Linked DNA regions of Homo sapiens. The protein of the gene in region 6 interacts with the protein of the main gene of each other region in a biochemical or structural test. Each region holds a gene or a part of one and is shown on either strand. Other genes may lie near its edges.

What was found.
Region 1: the proteins of HTR2C (region 6) and DLG2 interact in a test that uses a peptide from one of them, tested with the Homo sapiens proteins (one large-scale study listed by IntAct).
Region 2: the proteins of HTR2C (region 6) and ARHGEF12 interact in a test that uses a peptide from one of them, tested with the Homo sapiens proteins (one large-scale study listed by IntAct).
Region 3: the proteins of HTR2C (region 6) and FRMPD3 interact in a test that uses a peptide from one of them, tested with the Homo sapiens proteins (one large-scale study listed by IntAct).
Region 4: the proteins of HTR2C (region 6) and MAGI1 interact in a test that uses a peptide from one of them, tested with the Homo sapiens proteins (one large-scale study listed by IntAct).
Region 5: the proteins of HTR2C (region 6) and TJP3 interact in a test that uses a peptide from one of them, tested with the Homo sapiens proteins (one large-scale study listed by IntAct).
Region 7: the proteins of HTR2C (region 6) and HTRA1 interact in a test that uses a peptide from one of them, tested with the Homo sapiens proteins (one large-scale study listed by IntAct).

The regions. Positions count from the first base shown.
Region 1 is NC_000011.10:83,464,845-83,468,344, forward strand, and holds part of DLG2 (disks large homolog 2), read right to left. Parts: intron 1,974-3,500; coding exon 1,864-1,973; intron 1-1,863. UniProt on the Homo sapiens protein: Required for perception of chronic pain through NMDA receptor signaling. Regulates surface expression of NMDA receptors in dorsal horn neurons of the spinal cord.
Region 2 is NC_000011.10:120,342,913-120,346,412, forward strand, and holds part of ARHGEF12 (rho guanine nucleotide exchange factor 12), read left to right. Parts: intron 1-3,500. UniProt on the Homo sapiens protein: May play a role in the regulation of RhoA GTPase by guanine nucleotide-binding alpha-12 (GNA12) and alpha-13 (GNA13). Acts as guanine nucleotide exchange factor (GEF) for RhoA GTPase and may act as GTPase-activating protein (GAP) for GNA12 and GNA13.
Region 3 is NC_000023.11:107,561,152-107,564,651, forward strand, and holds part of FRMPD3 (FERM and PDZ domain-containing protein 3), read left to right. Parts: intron 1-1,959; coding exon 1,960-2,049; intron 2,050-3,500.
Region 4 is NC_000003.12:65,381,419-65,384,918, forward strand, and holds part of MAGI1 (membrane-associated guanylate kinase, WW and PDZ domain-containing protein 1), read right to left. Parts: intron 2,206-3,500; coding exon 2,114-2,205; intron 652-2,113; coding exon 459-651; intron 1-458. UniProt on the Homo sapiens protein: Plays a role in coupling actin fibers to cell junctions in endothelial cells, via its interaction with AMOTL2 and CDH5. May regulate acid-induced ASIC3 currents by modulating its expression at the cell surface.
Region 5 is NC_000019.10:3,748,849-3,751,313, forward strand, and holds the end of TJP3 (tight junction protein ZO-3), read left to right. Parts: intron 1-1,289; coding exon 1,290-1,336; intron 1,337-1,733; coding exon 1,734-1,836; 3' UTR 1,837-1,965; downstream 1,966-2,465. Other genes in the region: APBA3 (amyloid-beta A4 precursor protein-binding family A member 3), read right to left, coding at 2,057-2,249, 2,341-2,465. UniProt on the Homo sapiens protein: TJP1, TJP2, and TJP3 are closely related scaffolding proteins that link tight junction (TJ) transmembrane proteins such as claudins, junctional adhesion molecules, and occludin to the actin cytoskeleton.
Region 6 is NC_000023.11:114,846,086-114,849,585, reverse strand, and holds part of HTR2C (5-hydroxytryptamine receptor 2C isoform a precursor), read right to left. Parts: intron 1,584-3,500; coding exon 1,383-1,583; intron 1-1,382. UniProt on the Homo sapiens protein: G-protein coupled receptor for 5-hydroxytryptamine (serotonin).
Region 7 is NC_000010.11:122,464,553-122,468,052, forward strand, and holds part of HTRA1 (serine protease HTRA1 precursor), read left to right. Parts: intron 1-3,500. UniProt on the Homo sapiens protein: Serine protease with a variety of targets, including extracellular matrix proteins such as fibronectin. HTRA1-generated fibronectin fragments further induce synovial cells to up-regulate MMP1 and MMP3 production.

The DNA.
Region 1 (3,500 bases), on a different chromosome or scaffold from region 6:
GAAACAGGCCTTTAAGATGGCTGTTCCCAGGAAGTAAGGACTATTTTTCTTCTCATTAATGTTAGCATTACTTATATTTATGAGGCTCTTGACAGATTATAAATCAATTTTACATCATGAAATTTGTACTTGCTTAATTCACTTTGTGCAATGCCCGACATAGTATCCTATACAAGGAGAAATTTAATACATGCTATTGGGGATGATAATATTAAGAATCATTATTTTATCATTAGTACATATTTTTCCATGTGCCAGCCATGGGAAAAACTCTTTATATTATAATTTAATACCTAAATTCATGGGGCTGAAGGTACTGTCAGTGACCTCCCGATCTTACTTTTTTTATCCTGGTAAGAATCCTTGTCCATTTTTTATATATGGGACTATATTCTGCTTTCAAGGTACATCTCTGGCTATTTCCCCAGAGCTCAACTATGTATTTAACTTAATTCTCTCAGGCTGCCACTCCAGCTGCTGCAGTTTGCTTTGCTTCTTTGTCTTCAGAGGAGACACAGAACAGTTAATATCCTCTGTAAGCAATTGCTTTCACCACTGGGATTAAATAATTTCTGTTTCTTCGGTCCTTCCATAAACATTATTTTCCAGTACTCTGTGGTTCACTCCTGAACCCTGTCAAACACTATGGTCTTGAGGCCCAGATGAAGGCAAAATTTGATCAAGGCCCTCATGACAGACACATTGGCATTATCTCTTGCACTGTCATGGAAGAGGTACTGTTTATGTGTTTTATAATGATAAAATAGTTTTATTCCTTTATAATGAAGTAATTTTATATCTTTTACAATAATAATAGGTATTATTTATTGAGTACTTACCATATGCCAAAGAGTACATGAACAGCTTTACTAAATTCCTAATCTTGTTATTTAACCTTTATACTAGCTCTATGAGGTATTTATTAGTATGCCTCGTTTCGAGGTGAGGAGCTAAATCTTAGAAAGGTCAAGCAATTTGCCCAAGGTTACTTAACTGATCAGTGGCAAAGTAAAGAACCAAATCTTGCCTGATCAATTTTCAGGTCCCTGCTGGTAGCCCCTTTTCTGGTTACCTCTATCTACTGTAGCTTCACCTTTGTGAATGGGAGTTGCCTATACTGACTTTACAGTCAGATCGTGAATGTCTGCCCACTTTGTTTAATGATTCTTGAAAGAAGTTATTTCACAAGTCCTTTGGAGGGGAAAAAAAAAGAAAAAACCCTGAGTGCACAGGTATGAAGCTACTGGTTTAAGTTACAGATGTTTTACTGCCACGCCACTAAGAAAACTCTATTAAGAACGATGTTCTATGTATGTAAAGTTTTAATTAAGGAACATCAGAATTCTATTAGAGAACCAAGGAAAATGCCAATGAAAAAAGTCTCAAACGTTGTCTGCTCTCTCTATAAAAAATCTACACATTTAAAAAGATTTACTTATAGACCTGCCTCAGAAGTATGAGACAATTAAAAAATGATTGCTTCCTATCATTTGGAAAACAAAAGCAAACCAAAAAACCAAATCAAGCCAAGCTATCCTCAAAACAACAACAACAAAACCTCAAAAACTAACAAAGAAAACAATCCGTGAAGTAAAACAATAAAAATCAGGAAACATTATTGAAGATGTTTTAAGGAATTACTATTATTGTTAAAATGAGGGATGTTAAAAAAAGAAATCACTGACATTATGTTTCTAGTTGTTTAAAAGAACTTTGATATATCTTCAAAAAAAGAGAATGCTGAAAAATCAACAATGGCATTTCCCATTTGTAAGCATTCCCAGCAAAATCCTGTTAGTAATTTTCAGTATAATACAGAACAGGGAGTCAGTTGGATGAAGGCCTCCAATGCCCTCTACTCACATAAGAGGTTCCAGAGACCTGGGTTTTATGAAGATGGCAATGGGATAGAGCTGGGCAACTTGTAACCGCTTGATAGCATTTCCTGATACATCAAGTATACAGTGTTTGCCCTGGTAGAAAGAGAAGAAAAATATGAAGTTAATATAGGAAGCATGGCCATAATCCAACAAAAGGAAACTAATGTATGTAGGTTTTAGAGGAAGGTAGGGGATGCTGGATTTCTAAAGTCAGAAAAAGATCACTGCAAAGAGTAAATAAAAATCGATATATAGGGTCATCATTGAGTGTTTACAATAACTAATACTAACTAGCCCCTTACAAAGTGTCTGCTACTGGACTGGACATTTTACATATGTTCTCTCAGTTAAATACCTGATGTAACACACAAAGATGACATGCAGCCGTATGTTATGTGACTGAGTCTGTTCTCATGAAGTTTAAAAACCATCTCTGAACACAATTGTCAGAAGAAATTCCCAAATCTCTGAGGTAGGTATTATCAGCTGCATTTTACAGAAGACTCACACTAACTAACTTGCCCAATAGTTTAGTGCTAGGAGCATGCAAACCCAAGTCTGGAGCACTAACAGAATTGTTGGTTGGAAAAAATAGACACCTCATTGTCTCACCCTGCCCAACATTCGGTGTGGAAGATTGAGAATAATGTGAATTTTTCCAAGTACTTGTACATATCCTGTCTGCAAGGTACTCAGTCTAGTGGAGGGCAGACACAAAAATGGTTAACTTAAACATATGGTTGGTTGGGTGCAGTGGCTCATGGCTGTAATCCTAGCACTCTAGGAGGCCGAGGCGGGTGGATCACCTGAGATCAGGAGTTCGAGACCAGCCTGACCAAAATGGTGAGACCCTGTCTCTGCTAAAAATCCAAAAAGTTCACCAGGCATGGTGGTGGGCACCTGTAATCCCAGCTACTTGAGAGGCTGAGGCAGGAGAATCACTTGAACCCAGGAGGTGGAGGTTGCAGTGAGCTGAGACCGTGCCATGGCATTCCAGCCTGGGCAATAAGAGTGAAATGCCATCTCAAAAAAAATAAAAACTATATGTATATATATATATATATATATATATATATATATATATATACACACACACATATAAAATATATAATTAAAACATATATATATATATATATATAAATTAAATGCGGGTTAAATGCCAAGAGAGAAAGGCTTGCATGAGGTATGTAAATTTCTTGTTTGTTAACAAATAAAAATGCTATTACATTATAGCACACCTCATTTAACTTGGCTTCCACCACAATGAGTGCTCAGAGCAAGCAGCTGCTTTATAAAGCATTTCTGGATATGCAGATACATTTGCCACATCATATTCTACCTCCTGGAGAGAAATGTCCTCATTACCCTGAGGCTAGAATAACTTTATGCAAGAAGAGAAAAAAGGCACTTTATGCAGATAGGAACAATACTAAATCAATAATAAGGGCTAAAATCTCATCTATAATGTTCACATGAAAATGAATACAGTCCAGTGAATACTTGAAGTCTTCTTATCTGAGAAACCCACTAAGATGGTTCAAGCCGTTATTACTTAGGTAATAGATTTCAAGTTTTCTATCTGTGAAGTGCAGCAGCCACATAACATGTATAAATGCTGGT
Region 2 (3,500 bases), on a different chromosome or scaffold from region 6:
GAAGTTGTTTCTTATTTTTTCCAGTGGTTTTTCAGTTCGTTATCTTAAATTGTAGGTCAAAACATTCCTCGATGTTTGGTTTATTTTTACCTTATTGTTTTGTCTCCTCTTATTTCCACATGTTAGTGAAATAACAATGCTTAGCAGTATTTTTTTTTTCAGTAAAATGGATATTGTGAAAATTGAAATATTTTACTTTCTTGCTGTTGTATTTACAAGAATTGTTAATGACAAGACAGTGTAACAGAAAAAGTGCATATTTAGATTATTATAAAATCTGTAAGACTGTAGACCTTTTGAATACTTTATTAGCATATTTTCTTTAGTACTATTTTAGTTTCAAATTATTGAGATAGATGTCCTTGTTTTGTATTTTGCTAATATTAATATTTTGTATTTTGGTAATACTAAAATTTGCAAACATGCCAAATTTAGAGCATTTTACTTTTTCAACTTAGAATATCTGGAATCATCAAGATAGTCATATAGGGAAGACCGCTATAAGACAGCTTCTAACTCCAATAGAAGCCTATGAAGCTAGTGCCTGGTCAGAGGCTGTGCCTAAATTGCATGAGTATATAGTGTCGACTTTTAGTAAAAGAAAAAATACACTAACTTTACCTCTTGAATTAGCATGCACCAATGCAGTTTAGATTCATACCGAAACAGGATCTTTTACTAATTCAAATGCTGAGTCCTGGTTTTTGAGATCACAGTCACATGACAGGCCTGGGTGGCTTCTCAGTGTCTAGAGACAAGCAAATCTACTGGCCAATGAAAAGTAGGTTTCCTGTCTTGGACTGCAAGTAACAATTCATGCAGAAATTGGAACTATATAAGAGAGCCTGGTTTTAGTTAATGCTTTCAATTAGCTGCTTGTCACACTGCTTTTTCTTTTGGTGTTATATAACACATTAGAGTCATTTAAAGGTACACTCTGATACTACAGTTTTTGTCAAATATTACATATAAATGTTGATTTTACATTCATATACTCAAAAGATCAAAGAGGACTTTGTAGATCTTTTATGGATTCAAAAAAATGTAGATTATTTTGTTGTAGAAAAACTGGCCAGGCGCGGTGGCTCATGCCTGTAAATCCCAGCACTTTGGAAGGCTGAGGTGGGCGGATCACTTGAGGTCAAGAGTTCAAGACTAGCCTGGTCAGCATGGTGAAACCCTGTCTCTATTAAAAATACAAAAATGAGCCGGACCAGGTGGCACATGCCTGTAATCCCAGCTACTCGGGAGGCTAAGACAGGAGAATCACTTGAACCCGGGAGGCGGAGGTTGCAGTTAGCCAAGATTGCACCACTGCACTCCTACCTGGATGACAGAGCAAGACTCCGTCTCAAAAAAAAAAAAAAAAAAAAAAAAAAAAACTGGAGACTTCATCAGCCTCTGAAGGAATGATACCTGAAATTGATCTTGTAATGCAGAAAGTGGCTATATGTTATCCAGAAGAGTAACAGATACCCCAAATACACTTGCTAACACAAGAAATCCTGTGAAGGTGCTTAGACATACCCTTCCATAGATTTTAGATGGGTTATCTGCCTATGTTCCAGACACAAGCCGATATGTTGTGGTTTGCCCAGTACAGTCTCTGTGGTTTACTGAGAGGAAGTGGTTCTTGTGGGTGAAGGTCTGATCTTTTCAGAGATTGTTGGTGGCATATGCACTGTCAGCCTATTTCCTGTTTTATTGGCTGTTTAGCAAGACCTTCTTAGGGCAAGTGCTGCTGAAGAGGTATTTAAATATTTTGTATTGGCAGGATAGATGGTTATAATGATGTATTATTATATCACTACTTCTCAGGTGATATGAGAGTTAAATGAATGTTTGTGAAGTGCTTTGAGATCTTAGGATGAAAAGTACAGACATGTTCTTAGTCATTTGCAGGTTACTGCTATGTTCAGATATTGCTCTCTTGAAGTTAAAACTTGTTCATGTAGTAAAGTGTTACTCTATTAAACTTGATTTCTGTAACCATTCAAGTGTTGTTTTATCACCACAAGAGTCATGATTAGAATTTTTCCCCTTTTTTTCCTTTCTTTCAATGCTCCTTTATGATTTTACCCTAGAAGAGTTTCCTTAATAGATTCCTTGCTCTAGTACTGGTTAAGGCATATTTACCAAACTTAACACCTAGCAAGCTTGTCCAACCTGCCTTATTTTGCTGTTGTTCTTCTGTTTTGTTTTGTTTTAGGCTTTCAGCAGCCTGAAGCCATGGTTTTTAGTTTCTGTCTCTAGTGATAAAACGGAAAGAGGGATGAGGAAGGGGCTTTACTGGCCCATCCAGAAACAGAAACTAAGAACCCATGACTGTATTCTCTCCCTTGAACAACTGTAACTAGAGCAAACCTCTTTGCCAATTTAACTGGCATACTAAAATAATGAAATTGTGAGAATTTCCTTTGAGATTAGTAACTGTACCATCCATATACAAAACACTATATTGCTTTGCTGAAACCTGAAAGTGAGCAAACTGATAGAAATGCATATAACAGGCCGGGCGTAGTGGCTCACGCCTGTAATCCCAGCACTTTGGGAGACCGAGGTGGGCGGTTCAGGAGGTCAGGAGATCAAGACCATTCTGGCTAACACGGTGAAACCCCGTCTCTGCTAAAAATAGAAAAAATTAGCCGAGTGTGGTGGCGGGTGCCTGTAGTCCCAGCTGCTGGGGAGGCTGAGGCAGGAGAATGGCATGAACCCAGGAGGTGGAGCTTGCAGTGAGCCGAGATCGCGCCACTGCACTCCAGCCTGGGCACAGAGCGAGACTCCGTCTCAAAAAAAAAAAAAAAAAAAACGAAATGGCGTATGTCATACTCCTAAATATATATATATATACAGTATTTAGCCTTGGACGTTAAAAAAATTAACAATGAATGGGGGAAGGCTTTATTTAAAGCTAAATTGTTAGCTAATACGTGAGTTCTTCAAGGGTATAAGAATAGTTCTTATTCATTTTTAAGTAATTATCGGTAGCCTTATTATATTTTTATTTTTTAATACTGAAAAGCAGAAGGAAGAAAAATAAATGGCCCAAATGATCCAACTACCCAGATGTTGCTGCTCAGGTTAAACGCACACACGCATACACACACAGAAAATTCAAATCATATAAAATGGTATAAAAAAAAGTATTCCTACACACCTGTTAGTTTTCATACCTTCTCCTCATAGGTAACAATAGTTAATTTTTTTGGTTTATCTTCTGAAACATTTAAAAATATATACCAGCCTATAATTTTATTTTTTGCACCTACTCCATAATAAGTGTATCTGTCTTCTTTTGCTAGGTTATGCTGCTGTAGCAACACTATCAAATTTCAGTGGCTTACAACACTGCTTTTCTTCTTGCTTATGCTACACCTTGTCAGCTGTGGATTGACTGCAGCATTGCTTCACGTTTCTTATTTTGGAACCCTGGCTCAAGGAGCATCCCCTGTCTGGGCTGTGCCATTATTGTGGATGAGGGAGAGAGCAAGAAAACAGAT
Region 3 (3,500 bases), 7.3 Mb from region 6:
CTGAGCATGTATCATGTGGAAAGCACTGGACCCTAGGGAGGCACATGTTTTCCATGGAAATGACTAGGCTGGTGTGGTGGCTCATGCCTGTAATCCCAGCGCTTTGGGAGGCCAAAGCAGGAAGATCACTTGAGCCCAGGAGTTTGAGACCAGTCTGGGCAACATAGTGAGACAGCGTCTTTACTTTTAAAAAAATAATTTAAAAAAAATGTAAAAAAAGGAAATGTACCTCTGTACCTCTAATTCATCAGTCCTAGGGTGTGGAATTCTGGGAGACAAAACCCCAGCCCAGGGGAAAGTGGGAGAGTTGGGGGCACAAGACCTGACCTGGAGAATGGGTCACTGGGTGGAATGGTGAGGGATCAGGTTACTGCCTCCACTTTCTAGTGCTCTGAGGGACTCCCACTGTCTGCTTTCCCAAGCCCCGCAGCAGCTTCTTAGCTTTGTAAGATTCAATCTGCCTGTGCTTCCTGCCCTAGAAGCAGGAGAGTGGTGAGACGCACTAGAATCAGCATGCAGATGTACATATGGGACGCAATCGCCCCATACATTCCTCCCATTCCAGATTTCTTGCATTACCAACTAGCTTCTCTTTTAAGATGCAAATTTCCCCGGAGAGTTAAGCCATTCCCACCTTGCTGTGAATATTTAATCAGATTGTTTTCTTCTCAACTGAGAGCATCAGTGCTCACCACCATCTCCTCAGGTAACATTTTTTTCGAGGCACCCCAGTGCTTGGGTTGGAAATATGAAGATGAAGAGGGCCTGGTCTTGGCCCCTGAGTCAGGCACAGTCTAATGGGGAAACACATTAGTCAGTCCCAACACAGTGCATTAGGCACAGGTGCTCTGGAAGCACAGAGGAAGAACACTAAGCCCAGCCTGAGGGAGGTGGAAAAGGCCAGAGCTGGGTCTTGAAAGACAGATAAGAGTTTGTCTAGATTAATCCGTGGGCATGGGTCATGGGAGGAAGTGTTTCCCAGGCAGAGAGATCCATCTGTACAAAGGCCCAGAGATATGAGAAACCATGGTGCAAGGACAGAAATGCAAATCATTCAGCCTAAGCAAGTACAGAAAATGCAAGCTGTGTGCAAGGGGTGAAGATAGGGGCAAGAGAAGAGGCCAGAGAGGTTGGCAGGAGCCAGTTCATGGAGGGCCTTGTGTGCCAAGGAAAGAGGTTGTACTTCATCCTCTAGGCAGCTGGGAGCCATTGAAGGGTTTAAAGCAGGGAGCTGATGTGATTAAACTTATGTTTTAGGATGCTCCCTCTAACAGTGTGGAGGCACTTGAGGGAAAGAGGGAAACAAGTGTCAGTCCTGAAGGTAACCTGGCTGTCACCCTGACACAGGTGGGAATGTCAAGGCAATGACTGGCTAGAGAAGAGGGATGGATAGATTGGAAAAGGAGCTAGGGGGTAAGTATCCAGATGATCTGGTAACTGCTGGCTCTCACATGAGGCGATTAAGGAGGAGTCCAGTGTGACTCACAGGTTTCTGGCTTGATTGCCCAGGGGATGCTGATATAGACCAGGAATGCCTGAAGTGCAGGCTTGGGACTTAGGAATGCTTAGTATGAACGGTATTGAGTGGGACCCCCAGCTGGGGAATGACCAGCATGTACATGACTCTAGGGGTCTGAAACATCTCAGGAGAGAGGTATGGATTAGGTGGGGCGTCAGTTAGTTGGAATTAAACCAAAAACAAAATGAGTAAGCTGGATACTTTAGGAATGAAGATCAGGAGGTAGGACAAGATTTTAGAAAGGGAGATGAGATACTAGAGGGAAGAGCTGTCCAAACTAGAACCTTGCTGCTGTTTTAAGAAGGGCATCTTCACATCTCCACAGTGTCACTTGCTGACTGGTGCCTGTCCTAGGATGTTGAGACTCCTCGTTGAGAACATGGGTTTGCTTTTCCTGTGCCCCTCAGGCTTCTCATATTTCTGGATGGGTTTTTCCACAGGGCTCTGCAATTCAGGCAAAGCTCCAGTATCTACGAATTCTGAATGAACTTCCTACCTTCACGGGCGTTTTGTTCAACACTGTAGGCCTGGTCAGTGGCGCAGGATTGGGGGATGTGGGGAGGGAGCCCCTTGTTGGCTCTTGTCCTTGGGTGTGGGGGCAGGAGGGGCAAATATTTCTAAAGGCCTTCGTTCCTCTTCCTCCTCCTTCTACCTCTTACCTCCCTGGCCCTGCCTCTGCCAAAATGATAAAGTGGGAGGAGATATTTGTTTTGAGTATCCCTCCATGACCTTTTTTTGTTCCTCTTCCTCGATTTGGGGGCGCAGCATACTTTTTCCATAAAGGGCCAGATAGTAAATATTTTAGGTTTTGCAGGCGGGCCATACTGGCAACTGTGGCAACTACTCAGCCCTGCTGTCAGATTATGAAAGCAGCCACAGACAATGCATAAACAAATGGGTGTGGCTGTTTACCAATAATTATTTATGGATACGAAAATTTGAATTTCATGTACTTTTCACATGTCACAAAACATGCCTCTTCTGATTTTTTTTCCCTACCATTAAAAAATCTAAAAACCATTCTTAGCTCCTGGGCCATAAAAAATAGGTGGTGGGTGGTATTTGGCCCATGGGCCATGGTTAGGCAACCCCTGCTCTATTTCATTTTTGTTCCACATACTCCCACAGTCCCCTACCCTAGGTTTCCTGAGTCCTTCTACTTCTCCCCCTGCTTGCTCAGCACCTTTGCTGCAGGAACAAGGCTCTGGGGCAGGGCACAGCTGGTCCCACCCTAAGACTGTGCCCCAGGCTAGTTTACCCTGGTGAAAGGAAATTCAAATCACCTTGCTAATTGGATCCAGGTGCTTGTCTTGCTCCCAGGAGCACATTGTCAGCTAGTGCGGCACATCGGTGGAAAGCCACTTATCAAAGTGCCTATAGACAGGCACAAGAGGTTCCTCAGGGTGATGCTAATACCAGGGAATGGGCCTCCAGACGACCCAAGCTTGATTGCTCCAAGGAATCTGTCAAGACCTCTTAAGGGAATCCAGTCCTTCAGGCCGAGAGGTAGCCATTTACATACTGGGATTTGCAGAACACTGAAAGCCCACTGTCCCCTCCCACCTCCTTCATACACTGTCAAATCTTTCTTCCACCCACCTACCACTGCTAAAATTTCTATTGGCCATACCTGCTGGAGTGCCCATTAAAAGGCAAATCTCTGCTTAACGAGGGAGGCTGCCATGAAGTACCCAATCAACCCTCAACACCTTAGGCAGAGTTACTGTGCCAGTTTAGTTTTTGGCCTGGGTGAGAAGTGCAAGTTTGAGTGGCTGTTGGTGGGGGGAGGGTAAAGACCAGACACAGGATGCCGCCTTCTCAGGCAGAGCACTGGGTGGGGGCCTCAAATGGCCTGCAGCAACAAATGGAAAGCCCCTGGGGCTTGGAAGGGGAGGGTGCTCCAAAGGCCCCCAAACAAACCTCACCTACTTCACGGTTTTGCTTGAGCTAGCCCTTCTGCCTGTGCACTTTACTCAACCTG
Region 4 (3,500 bases), on a different chromosome or scaffold from region 6:
AAGAAAAAAAAAAAATCTTGGTTTAATACATAGGACAGTAAGAAATCAGTAACTTTTTTATGAGCTTATTTTGTAGCACAAACCCGATTTTTGTTCCCTTGATATGAAGCTACAACTCTTCTGACTTTCATAATGACCTCATTTGCTGAGGATTAGCATCAAATGAAGAGGATGGCTAAGTTCTGATTTGCAAGGAGATAGAAGGGAAGTAATATATATTCAACTAGCCTTCCTCTGGAAGCCTTTGTTGAACACATGCAAACGGCACATTAAAGTACTTTAGAATGACAGTAATTTTTGCAGGGTTTGAGAGAAGCAAGCCATCTGGAAATTCTGAGCTTGATCACATTTGCAAACATTTGCTAAAATAGACGCTCAAGGAGGCAGACACAGGAAGGAGGCCTTTTCTGTGAATAAAGTGACAACGCACTGTCTGAAGGAATGAATGAAATACATACCCGCAAAAACCACTTTACGCCGCACCGTGAGATTGACGTGGCCTTGCTTGGCAGCTTGTTGCATAAGCTGGACCACAAGCTGGTGTGATTTTCCAATTACTGGCGTCCCATCCACACAGATTAATTCATCTCCAGACCTCAGGCGGCCGTCAGTATCAGCAGCACCCAGTGGTACGATGTGACCAATATAAATCTGTTGAGTAATTGAACGATGGATGAAACATTGCTCTCCTATGTTTACTGTTACATCAATAGCCTTCACATCTCTGGGAACAATTCATTCATTCATGTCTGCAGGCATGCCGCAAACATTTATTGAGCACCCACTGTGTACAAGACATTGTGCTAAGCACTGCAACAATTCTTAAATGGTGGAAAGAGTATTTCTTGCTTAGTTTCCAGATGTTTATCTGTGGCCTATTGATGACTCACTCTCTTTTTCCCCTTTGCAGATATAAATTACTTTTCTCCCTTCATTATATACCCTATTCTTCTTTGGTAGCTACCTAAAAACTCTCTTTCCATAAAACTCTGCTAATTAAAATATTAATATTACTTTTATTTAAGGGTCTAGCATCATGCCTAGGAATAGGGAATCTGTAATAAATACTCTTAAATGAATGAATGAAGCAAAAGTTGGTTGGACATCTCCATTTTTGAAGTCTTTTAGCACCCGAAAGCAGAGCACTCTTTATAGTTAGTGTCTTGCTGTTATATTTGCCATTCACTAAACCTTAGCTAAAATATTTGTGCCTGCCTTGCCTTTCCAGCAGACAATAATGCTATAGCTACCTTTACGTGGCATTTATAGTTTACAAAGAACTTTGACAAAATAGTTGCTAAGAACATGAACTCGAGTCAGACCTTATTTGTCAGTCCCTCCATTTGGTAGCTCTGCGATCTTGGGCAAGTTAGTTAGCCTTTCTTTTCCTTGATGTGAAAACGGGATAAACTGGTGGGTTTGACGGATAAATGAGAGAATGTATGTTAAGAGCCTTTAGCACAGAACCTGGCACATAGTAAGCGCTCGATGAATAATGGCTGTTATTACCACAAGGAAATTAACGATACCTATTTCAGTTTTCTTTTCTTCCTTCAAAGGAACCCTGTTATGTTATTCTAAATTTATTCCAAAATGGAGGACACTGAGGCCCAGGGAAGTTCAATGTTTCTTGACCCTTACTCAGGGTTCTTTCTCAAGTTTTGTAAAGGCAGGGGTCTGACATTCTCCAATCACTGTCTCATAAGGCTTTGCGAAGTACTCTCTGCACACCAGCAACTCAACATACAAAGCCTACTACCTGCTGGCAGAGTGAAGGGACCTGGCCAGAAGGACCAGGCCACTGTGATATTAGGTGATGCCTATTCCTGTTTTGCTTTCTGTTTTCATCTCCCTTGGGGGAAAAGGGGTGGTCTACAGAGGCAGCTCCCACCTTTCACAAACACTCATACAAACTTTTTAGAAAGAATCTAGTCTCTTCTTCCTCAAGACAAAGAGAGCTCCACAAAACCCAATGAGAAACCCACACTACTCAAGATTAAAGAGTCAGTGTTGCATCTAGCTGGACTTAAATCTTGGTGATTTGTCACTGTCGCCAATTTGCTTTGAAGCCTTAGAAAAATATGCTGGGAAGAGAGACAAGCAAAAGACTCACAGGTTCCCCTGGTTCATTTCCACCCAGAATCCTAAATCCAAATCCAGTCTCTTTTCTCCAGAGGAAGATGTCCTGTTCCTGGTAATCTGGAACTGCAGAGAGGGGAGAAAAAAGAGAAGGATTATTTTACTGATAAAAGCAATGATACCCCCAAGATGAACACAGTTGCAGGACAAGAATGGTGGTGCTTGATCAGATGGAAGATTTTCAATATAGGCAAAGAAACAAAATACTCTGAACAGGTGAAATAATGGAAGACACGGGGATAAACAGTGGGAATAGTCACTGAGCCCTAAAGTTCTTCACAGGACCCATCACTGTTTGATAATTCCGAATCAAGCCCAAGCCATGATCCTTAACTACAAATAGTCAGCATTAACTGCTTTCCTCAGTATTCTTGCAAGGAGAATTAAGTAAATTAAAATTATTATGTGCCACACCACAAAGCAGGTGTCCATGTCCAAGAACACTCAGGCTAAGTCAGAGTCACCTCTGAAGCCAGATCTAAGGATTCGGAAGTCATGTTAAGTCACCAGATGTTTCCTCTACTAGAGGATGAAAGAGAACAGCTTGGTTTAAACAGACTTTCTGATTTATCTTTAAGTCACTTTCTTCTTCCTTAAAATAATTAAGGCTAGCAATGCTAATAGGCTTTGTTAGATCATTTTTGCCAAAAATTACTCTAAAACATCCTAGTATTTCTGCATACAGTCAGTCCTCCATATCTGTGGGTTCTGCATCCTTAGATTCAACCAATCACAGATAGAAAATTTGTTAGACCTACAATGGTTTTAGCTGTGATGAATACGTACAGATTTTTTTCTTCTCGTTATTCCCTAAGTAATACAGTATCACAACTATTTACATGGCATTTGCATTGTATTAGATGTCATAAGTAATGTAGAGATGATTTAAAGTATATAGGAGGTGGGGTGCAGTGGCTCACAGTGGCACTCCCAGCACTTTGGGAGGCCAAGGCAGGCGAATCGCTTGAGCCCAGGCATTCAAGTCTGGGCAACATAGTGAGACCTTGTCTCTACAAAAAATAAAAAATGAGCCAGGTATGGTGGTGTGTGCCTGTACTCCTAGCTATTCGGGAGCTGAGGTGGGAGAATCACTTGAGCCAGGGAGGTTGAGACTGCAGTGAGCCATGATTGCCCCAGTGCACTCCAGCCTGGGTGACAGAGTAAGACCCTGTCTCAAATAAATAAACAAACAACAAACAAACAAATAAATAATATAGGAAGGGGTGTGTGTGTGTGTGTGTGTGTGTGTGTTACACACAAATATTAGGCTATTTTCTAGGGATTTAAGCATCCATGGATTTTTATATCCTTGGTGGGGGATGCGGGTGTCCTGAAACCAATCCCCAGCAGACACTGAGGGG
Region 5 (2,465 bases), on a different chromosome or scaffold from region 6:
TTTTTTTTTTTTTTTTTTTTTTTTTTTTGAGTTAGAGTCTCGCTCTGTCACCCAGGCTGGAGTGCAGTGGCACGATCTGGGCTCACTGCAACCTCGGCCTCCTGTGTTCAAGCGTTTCTCCTCCCTCAGACTCCCAGGTAGCTGGGATTACAGGTGAGCACCACCATGCCCAGCTAATTTTTTTTTTTTTTTAAGGTATTCTTAGTAGAGACAGGGTTTCACCACGCTGGCCAGGCTGGTCTCCGATTCCTGACCTCAGGTGATCCACGTCGGCCTCTCAGAGTGTTGGGATTAGAGGCGTGAGCCACCGCACCTGGCCTCCAGCCAACATTTTAACCTCTCTGTGCACCTGTTTCCTCATCTAGGACACAGGGTGGATGGTATCAGACTTGGTGGCACAGGGCGGTGGTGAGCACTCAATGTGCTCAGCCCAAGTTTTGGCACATAGTAGTTGCGTGTCTTTTTGAACTTGACCTATCTAATTTATATATTTTATTTTTTAAATTTTAGAGATAGGGTCTTGCCCTGCTGCCCAGGCTGGAGTGCAGTAGTACAATCATAGTTCGTTGCGGCCTCCAACTCCTGAGCTAAAGGGAGCCTCTCATCTCAGCCTCCGGAGTAGCTGGGACCACAGGCGCGCACCACCACCCACACCCAGCTAATTTTTTTTCATTTTTTGCAGAGATGTGGTCTTGCTATGTTGCCCAGGCTGGTCTCTAACTCCTGGGCTCAAGTGATCCTCCTGCCTTGGCATCTCAAAGTGCTGGGAGTACAGGCGTGAACCACAGCGCCCAGCTGTAGTTGGGTGTTTAACAGTAACAAATGTGTATGTAGCTCTTAGTGTATATGCCTCAGCATCTTCTTCCACACCCTCTCTAGGTCAATGTAAAAATCTATGAATCAATGACATCTCTGATTAGAGTGATTTTCCTGGGGTTGTGCAGTACCCAACCTGCTCAACTGTCCATGGCAGGCTGCATACGGAGCAGCCACTGTACTAAGTCCTTTACGTACATGAACTCATGGCTGTGGCCCTGTGAGGACTTGCACAGATGAGAAACCCAATTCCCCTTTTGCTGACAGGCTAGGAGGTCTCAGCTAAGGCCTTCCCCTATCCCAGCCTCAGTTTTCTCATTTAGATTTGGGGATGACCTGCAGACTTGTCACGGGGTTAGCAAGTGGGCAGCATGGCCCGGGCCAAGGTGGGGGATGGGATGGAGGTGGTTATTGATCTCGACTCACCATGCTCTGGGGGGAGTTTTGAAGCTCCTCTCTCCCTCTCCTCCAAGGTGGACAGCCGCCACCCCCAGGGACAGTGGCGACAGGACAGCATGCGGTAAGAACCCCATATTCCAGATTGGGGCCCTCAACCCTTCCCTTGGGACTCAGACTCTGCGGACTCAGATCTAGATCCAAGCTATGCCTTCATGGTGCCCCTAGCCTAGTGGGGAAGACAGAGCCTGCCAGAGCCTCTCTAAGCCCCATATAATCAGGGCCAAGGGAGTAGGAATCCACTTCCTGGGAGGCCTAGGAAGGCTTCTTGAAGGGCAGGATATTGCAGCTGGGGCTTTGAGGGATGCATAGGAGTTTGTTAACAAGGCCCTACCCATGAATGCCCAGATGTGCTTATCTCTGCCCACACCCACTGTGCCTAGCACAGCCAGCCTCAGTTTATGGTGAGAAAGCTCACACCCTTCCCACCCACAGCATCTATTCTATTTCCTGATCCCCAGAACCTATGAACGGGAAGCCCTGAAGAAAAAGTTTATGCGAGTACATGATGCGGAGTCCTCCGATGAAGACGGCTATGACTGGGGTCCGGCCACTGACCTGTGACCTCTCGAAGGCTGCCAGCTGGTCCGTCCTCCTTCTCCCTCCCTGGGGCTGGGACTCAGTTTCCCATACAGAACCCACAACCTTACCTCCCTCCGCCTGGTCTTTAATAAACAGAGTATTTTCACAGCACCGGCTTCTAGTGGCTTCCAGGAAGGACAAGGTCCTCGGTCCCGTAGACCCTGATCCGAGACTTTGCCAAATGCATAAGCTTTTACTGTTTTTATATTAGGAAATCATACAGGACCAAGAACCGCTGGGGTCCTGGCCAGCCAGGGCAGGCCCAGGATGGGGCTCCGGGGCCATGGAGGCGAAGGCACAGTGGCAGGCAAGGGATGAGGTGGTCACAGGTACACGGGCTGCTCCTGGCCTGTAAGGAGGCGATATGTGGCAGCTGGCATCGTCTTGATATGCACCTGGGGAGTGGAGGCGGAACGGGGCTCAGGGCAGGCCTGGGCTCGTGGGGGACGTGGGGGCGCCCCTGGCCACCACCCACCACCCGCACACCTCGCCATAGGCCTCGGTGAGCAGCTCGATGATGCGGGCGTGTGGCGTGGCCACCACACTCTGCCCATTGATCTCAATGATGCGGTGGCCGACGCGGATGCCCCCACGCTCGGCGATGCCACCAC
Region 6 (3,500 bases):
TCTGTATTCCTACTCTAGTCCTCCATTGCTTGCGAGTCTGAAATGATCGTCTCCACCTGTCAGTCATATCTTCAGGTTTATAATGCATCATTGGCAAAAGTGAACTAGAAGTCATAATCATTTTTCTTGGGTTTTTGTCTTTTTCTGGATCTTAGCCAATAGCAATTTCTATTTCATTAGCTTCTTAGGGCTTTTAGTGTTTTATCCATGTGTTTATTTGCCTTTAGCACAAGAGTCATTGCAAATTACTCAGTCTTTCATTACTAGAAGCTGATGCAACAATATTCTGTCTGTGTATTTCCTTTGTAAGCACCATAAAAGCTGGCATCTTTTTAGATGAACTCTTTGTGATGGCTAGGGCAAAATCTGTGAACTCTTGAATTTGTAAGTCAAACTTACGTAAATTCATTTTTGTCTTTTGGGACAAGCTTCACGACTTTTTATTCAAAGGTGTCTATGCTATACACAGGCAGAACAATCTACAATAGAACAATCTTAAAACTTAAATGTATTTGATCAATAAACCCAGAGTCAAAATATTTAGATGATATTAGTGAAGATTAAATAGAAGTCTTGATCTTGTTGCACACTTTACCTCAATCTTTACAAAAACATAAATATGAAGAAAAATTATTTACACCAACTGGAAAAGGAAAAAAACATGAAAGTAAAACCCCTAAAGTCCAATTGTTTAAATTTCTTGGCTTTAATATTAGCACTGTTAAGGCATTTATGAATACCTCAAATATAAGCAATAAATGATCATTTCTTTCCCTTTAAACTGCTACAAATCTTTAAAGAAACAAATTTTTTTTTCTTTTTGTATACCCAGAATTCAAGAAGACAATTAAAACTGAGAGAAAATAGTACATTTTAGGTGTCATAGCAACAAAAATTTAGACATATTTACTTGATGATGATTTAGATTGCATTATTAATTTTTCTACTGAAAAGGATAGGAATTTAGAATAAAAATACTAAGGTTAATATTCTGGGATACATGTAACTTTTCAATATAAGATTGAAATGTTATATTTTTAAAATTTAGACTTTAATTAGACTTTATGTCTTTCTCATTTTCAAAGCATTTTAAATATTTCAAACATTTTGTATCTGTGTTGCAGAATTCATTGGCATACTAATGCATAAAATAATTTAGCAGCATAAATGGAAACTTTATATTTACATATTAATACACATTACATTCCTTTCATTATTGTTAACCTAAATATCAGATAAATAGGTTAAGAATAATTACTAAATAAAAGAACCCGATCAAACGCAAATGTTACCAGTCGACGTCTGTACGTTGTTCACAGTACATAATCCGAAAGTATTGAGCATAGCCGCTGCAATTCTTATGGCCAAAAAGTTTTATTTACCTATAGAAATTGCCCAAACAATAGCAATCTTCATGATGGCCTTAGTCCGCGAATTGAAACGGCTATGCTCAATAGGATTACGTATTGCTACATACCGATCCAGCGATATAGCGCAGAGGTGCATGATGGACGCTGTTGAAAATAAAACATCTAAAGAAATCCAGACGGGGCACAAATATCTAGGTAGTGGCCAGACATAATCTGAAAGAGAACAGAGAGAAGACAAGAACACGTCATCCAAATTGTACTGACTATAGTCTCAAATTTTAGTCTGCTTATATTTTCTCATAATCTAAACCTTTTAAAGAAAGTGAAATTTAGGAAGCATTATTTTCTATAGGGATGATGATGGTGATCATGATAATGATACCTTCAGCGTGACATATATTTTATTGAGGTAAAATTTACACAACATAAAATTAATCTCTTTAAAGTGTACAATCCAATGGCATCTAGTACATTCACAATATTGTGCAACTAGCATCTGTCTCTAGTTCAGAAACATTTCATCACTCCAAAAGGAAACTGCATACCGTTAAGCAGTTACTTCCCATTCTCCCATCAACCAGCTCCTGGCAATCTCTAATTTGCTTTTTATCTTTTTTTTTTAATTATTATTATACTTTAAGTTTTAGGGTACATGTGCACAATGTGCAGGTTAGTTACATATGTATACATGTGCTATGCTGGTGTGCTGCACCCATTAACTCGTCATTTAGCATTAGGTATATATCCTAATGCTACCCCTCCCCCCTCCCCCCACCCCACAACAGTCCCCAGAGTGTGATGTTCCCCTTCCTGTGTCCATGTGTTCTCATTGTTCAATTCCCACCTATGAGTGAGAACATGCAGTGTTTGGTTTTTTGTCCTTGCGATAGTTTACTGAGAATGATGATTTCCAATTTCATCCATGTCCCTACAAAGGACATGAACTCATCATTTTTTATGGCTGCATAGTATTCCATGGTGTATATGTGCCACATTTTCTTAATCCAGTCTATGGATTTAACTAATTTGGATATTTCATATAAATAGAATCATACAATTTGTGACTTTTTGGGTCTGGCTTCTTTCACCTAGCTAATGTTTTTGAGGTTTATCTATTTCGTAGCATGTATCAATACTTAATTCTTCTTTGTGGCTGATGCTGTTATCAATTGAGGTTTTTTTGGAAGCTGTTGTAAATAGAATTGTTTTCTTAAATTCTTTCATGGATTGTTCATCACTGTGTATAGAACTACAAATGTCCTGCAACTTTGCTGAATTCATTTATTAGAGCTATGTTTTGTGTTGACTCTTTGGGATTTTCCATATATAAGATCATGTCTTCTGCAAATAGAAATAATTTGATTTATTCTTTTCCAATTTTCCTCTGCCTTTTATTTCCTCTCTTTGCCTAATTTCTCTACATGGAATTTTCAGTACCATGATAAATAGAACTAATGAAGTTGGGCATTCTGCCTTTTTTCCCTGATCTTAGAGGAAAATCAGTCTTTCACTATTGACTGGGTTTTGTTTTTGTTTTTTATAAATGCCTGTCAAGGACATTTTCTTTTATTCCTAGTTTGTTGAACATTTTTTTATCATAAAAAAGTGATGGACTTTTGCAAATGCTTTTTCTGCATCAATTGACATAATCATGTGGTTTGCATACCTTCATTCTATTAATGTGATACATTACATTGATTAGTTTCTGTATGTTGAATCCCTCTTGCATCCCTGAGATAAATCCCATTTAGTAATGGGTATATAATATGGTGCTGAATTTAGTTTGCTAGTATTTTATTGAAGACTTTTGCATTTATATTAATAAACAATACTAATCTATAATTTTCTTGTAATGTCTTTAGCTGGCTTTGATATTAAGATAATGCCAGTCTAATAGAATATATTACAAAATGTTTCTTCATCTTCTATTTTTTAGAAGAGTTTGAGAAGAATTGGTGTTAATTTTTGAAATGTTCGGTGAAATTCAAAAGGAAAACTTCTTGTCTTGAGCTTTCATTGTTGAGAGGTATTTGATCACTGATTCAATGTAGTTACTTTTTATATGACTCTTCAGATTATTTCTCCTTGAGTCACTTTTGGTAGTATGTGTGTTTTTAGAAATTTTTACAT
Region 7 (3,500 bases), on a different chromosome or scaffold from region 6:
TGAATGAATGAAGACAAACGGGAGGTGCTTGCGATACACAGCCATTCTGTTTTTCCTTAGTGGAAGGCACTGCTTTGCTGCGCCCCCTCTCTGGATCTCACACTCCACCCTTGACTTTTCGGAGGTGTTTCCGAGGACAGGCGCCTGGGAGCCAGCAGACTTCATTCAGTCCAAGCCAGGCTCCAGGACTCAACAGCTGGTGCCCACGGGCAGGTCACTTGACGTCACTGTTAAATGAGGTGAATTGGCTGCCTGCTCTGGCTGGAAGATTGGCGGGAGAGTCACTTTAGCTGCCATGGACATGAGCCTTTTCTAGGGGTGCCACTTGACTAGAGGCCTGGAGTTGGAGCAAGTCATACACGGATCTGGAGACAGAGCTCTCGAGGCAGGAGCGGGTGCTGCGATTTCAAATATTATAAGGTGGCTTTGTCTGGGGCAGAGCATGCCAGGGGATGAGAGGTAGAAATGTCATCAGATCAGGGGTCCCCAGGGAGGTGACTAGCACTTTGGGTCACAGTAGATCTTTGGATAGAGGAACATGTCACCATTCAAAGGAAAGCACTTTCATCTGTAAGCTGTTTATTGAATAGACCTCAGAGAACATCTCTGCTCACCGCTCTGGAAATGAAGGCAAATCATCTATTTCAGAAGTCAATGCACTGGCAGGGTTTGGATGGGAAAGTATACAATTCAGCTAGAGAACAAAGATCTGTCATCTCCAGCTGTACTGGTCAGATGATTACAAAAAAGAAAGGAATTGAAATACTAATAGGGTACTAATAATGAGGGCTAACATATATGTTGTGCTTATTCTATGCCGGGTGCATACTAATTCATTTGATCCTCCGGACAGTCCTATGAGTGAGTGCTGTAGTCTTCCCTGGGTTACAGCTGGGCAGCTAAGTCACAGAGAAGTACCTTGCTCAGGACTGGTGGTCCCACACAACTGGATGGAGAGCCTCGTTCATAACCACCATGCTGTGCTGTTGACAGAGCAACAGAGATTTTAAACCAACCCCAGCTAAGCCCCAGCTAATAGCTGAAATAAACAGGGCTCCAGATGGCTGTGGCTTAGAGATGGAACAGGACAGATCACAGCCTTCACTCTGCAGGCTCAGGAGCCTGAAGACAAGGTTGCCTCCAGTTGCCGTCAGTGCAGCCCTCACTAAAGAAAAGCAAAAAGAGCCGAGGGACTGTAGGAAGGCTGTTTCCAAGCCAGAGATCCAGACAAACTGCTCTTGAAGAGAGAAAGCCCTTCCAGATTCCCCCATGTCCCAAAAGACCAGCCGGGATTCCGGACCTCTGCTAAAACATGGACAAGAAGCCAGGAACGAGACCTGAAACAGACTTCCCAAACAGCAGAAGCCTCATCCATTTCTCCTGCTAGTACATCCTCCAGGAAAGCCCACCCTACTCCATGCAGCAGCCCAGACAAGCTTGGAGGTCTGCAAGCTGCAGGGGTGCCCAGAAACTCCACCCCTGGAGGTTTTTAGGATCGCCTGCTCCTGGTCTCACCCCAGAGCCTCTAAAGGCAGAGGCTGTATGTACATACCTGGTGAAGAACCAAGGGCTTAGATGGTTGCTTTACTTCTTGGAGCCCTGGAATGTTTGTAAAATTTACTTTTTTTTTTGAGACAGTGTCTCGTTCTGTCGCCTACGCTGGAGTGCAGTGGCGCGATCTCGGCTCACTGCAAGCTCCACCTCCCGGGTTCATGCCATTCTCCTGCCTTAGCCTCCAGAGTAGCTGGGACTACAGGCACCCGCCACCACGCCCAGCTAATTTTTTTGTATTTTTTGGTAGAGACGGGGTTTCACCGTGTTAGCCAGGATGGTCTCCATCTCCTGACCTTGTGATCCGCCCGCTTTGGCCTCCCAAAGTGCTGGGATTACAGGAGTGAGCCACTGCACCCGTGCCAAAATGTACTTTATTTAGGTGACTCTTTCGTGGGAACCTCAAACAAGCAATCATTGCTAGCTGAGTGCTGACCCTGTACTGAGCTCTGGGGAGACAGGGTTGAATAAAACAAAGTCACTGCCCACAGGTAACTTATATTCAATACAATGGGGGAAAATACAATCACTGCTTCCCTGGGGTTGTATTTTTCCATTGTTAAAGTGGGCAGTTTGCTCGAGAGTCATTTTCACTATTGGCAATTCAAATACACCTTTTGTCAGTTAAAAAACAAGTGTGCCAGGGACCTGAGCTTCATCTTAGGGCAGGGTGGGTGGAAACATTTGTGAGTCTCCAGCTTTTAGTCACCTGAAACTTGGAAACTTGGAGGTCTTTTGAGCAGTTTATGAGTCTCTGCCTGCTCTGGTCGGCTGCCTTCTTTTATTGCTCTGTTGGTTTTGCTAAAGAGTTAAAATATTAAGGCTTCATAAAATTAGGAAGTTAACAAGCTCAAAAACCAAGTGTTTGAGTTACTTCATTCCACTGAGAGAGCTGTAAATGGGTTGCATTGGAACTTAAAATAACTGCATTGAGTAAGTGATGGTGGCGGGCACCATGAGCTAACTGTGGTCAGAAGCCTGATGGCCTCCGCTTTGGGGCTGGATTCTCCGTTTGGAGCTGTGTGATCCTGGATGAGTTTCATGCCTTGGATTCAGAAATCAGACTTTCCATGAGCTTATATTTCAAGTGAATAAATAGCTCTGGTCAGGCTTAATTTGAAGAAGAAGTAAGCTTGGCAGTGGGTGAGGGTTCCTTGGAAGGCCAACTGGGGCGGAGGGGCTGAGGGCAAGCGGCTCTGGCCCTTCCTGGGGTGTTACCTGACCAGGTAACAGCTCCCTCGACCTCTCGGAGCCTCGGCAGTGAGGGGATTGGGCCAGTTGATCTCTGAGGCTCCTTTTAACTAGAATGGTCTGGGATTTTTCTAAGAAAACAAGTCTTTGAGGAGGTTGTGGTCACCTCATTCCTAATTTAAAGCCTGGGGAGGCTTCCTTATGAGCTACTTCTTTTTCCTAAATTATTGATGGTTAAAGCCAAGGCTGGCATCGAATAGATGTGATCCATCTTGAGCCTGGTTGCTTTGTGTTTCAGCTTTGTACTGGCTGCTGAAGTCCCCGGGAGACCACAGGGGTGACATGTTCATCTCCAAGAGATGAGCTTCCACGAGACTCATACCCCTTGCTCCTTCCCTGGGGCTCCAAGGCCTTTGGGTCATCTGAAGTGAGATACCCTTGTGTCATTTCATCTTTTCCTTCTCCACCTTCTCTGCCGTTAAAAAAAAAAGAAGAAAGAGAAAAATCCTATTAATAGAGAAACCGAGAAGTGTAGCCATTCTGAATGTGTTTCCAAAAGGCTCCTGGAAGTGGCATGGAAGTTACAGTGATTCAGCACTACTTGGTGACGTGTGCCTAGAACCACAGGGGGACATTAGCCAGGACAACACGCCTCAGGACAGAAGTAAGTGGCTGCGAAGAGGCATGTCCATCACTGCCGGAAAGATGCAGAGTTCAGTTTTTGGAGTCAGTGCTGAGAGTTCCATTTCTAAATTCAT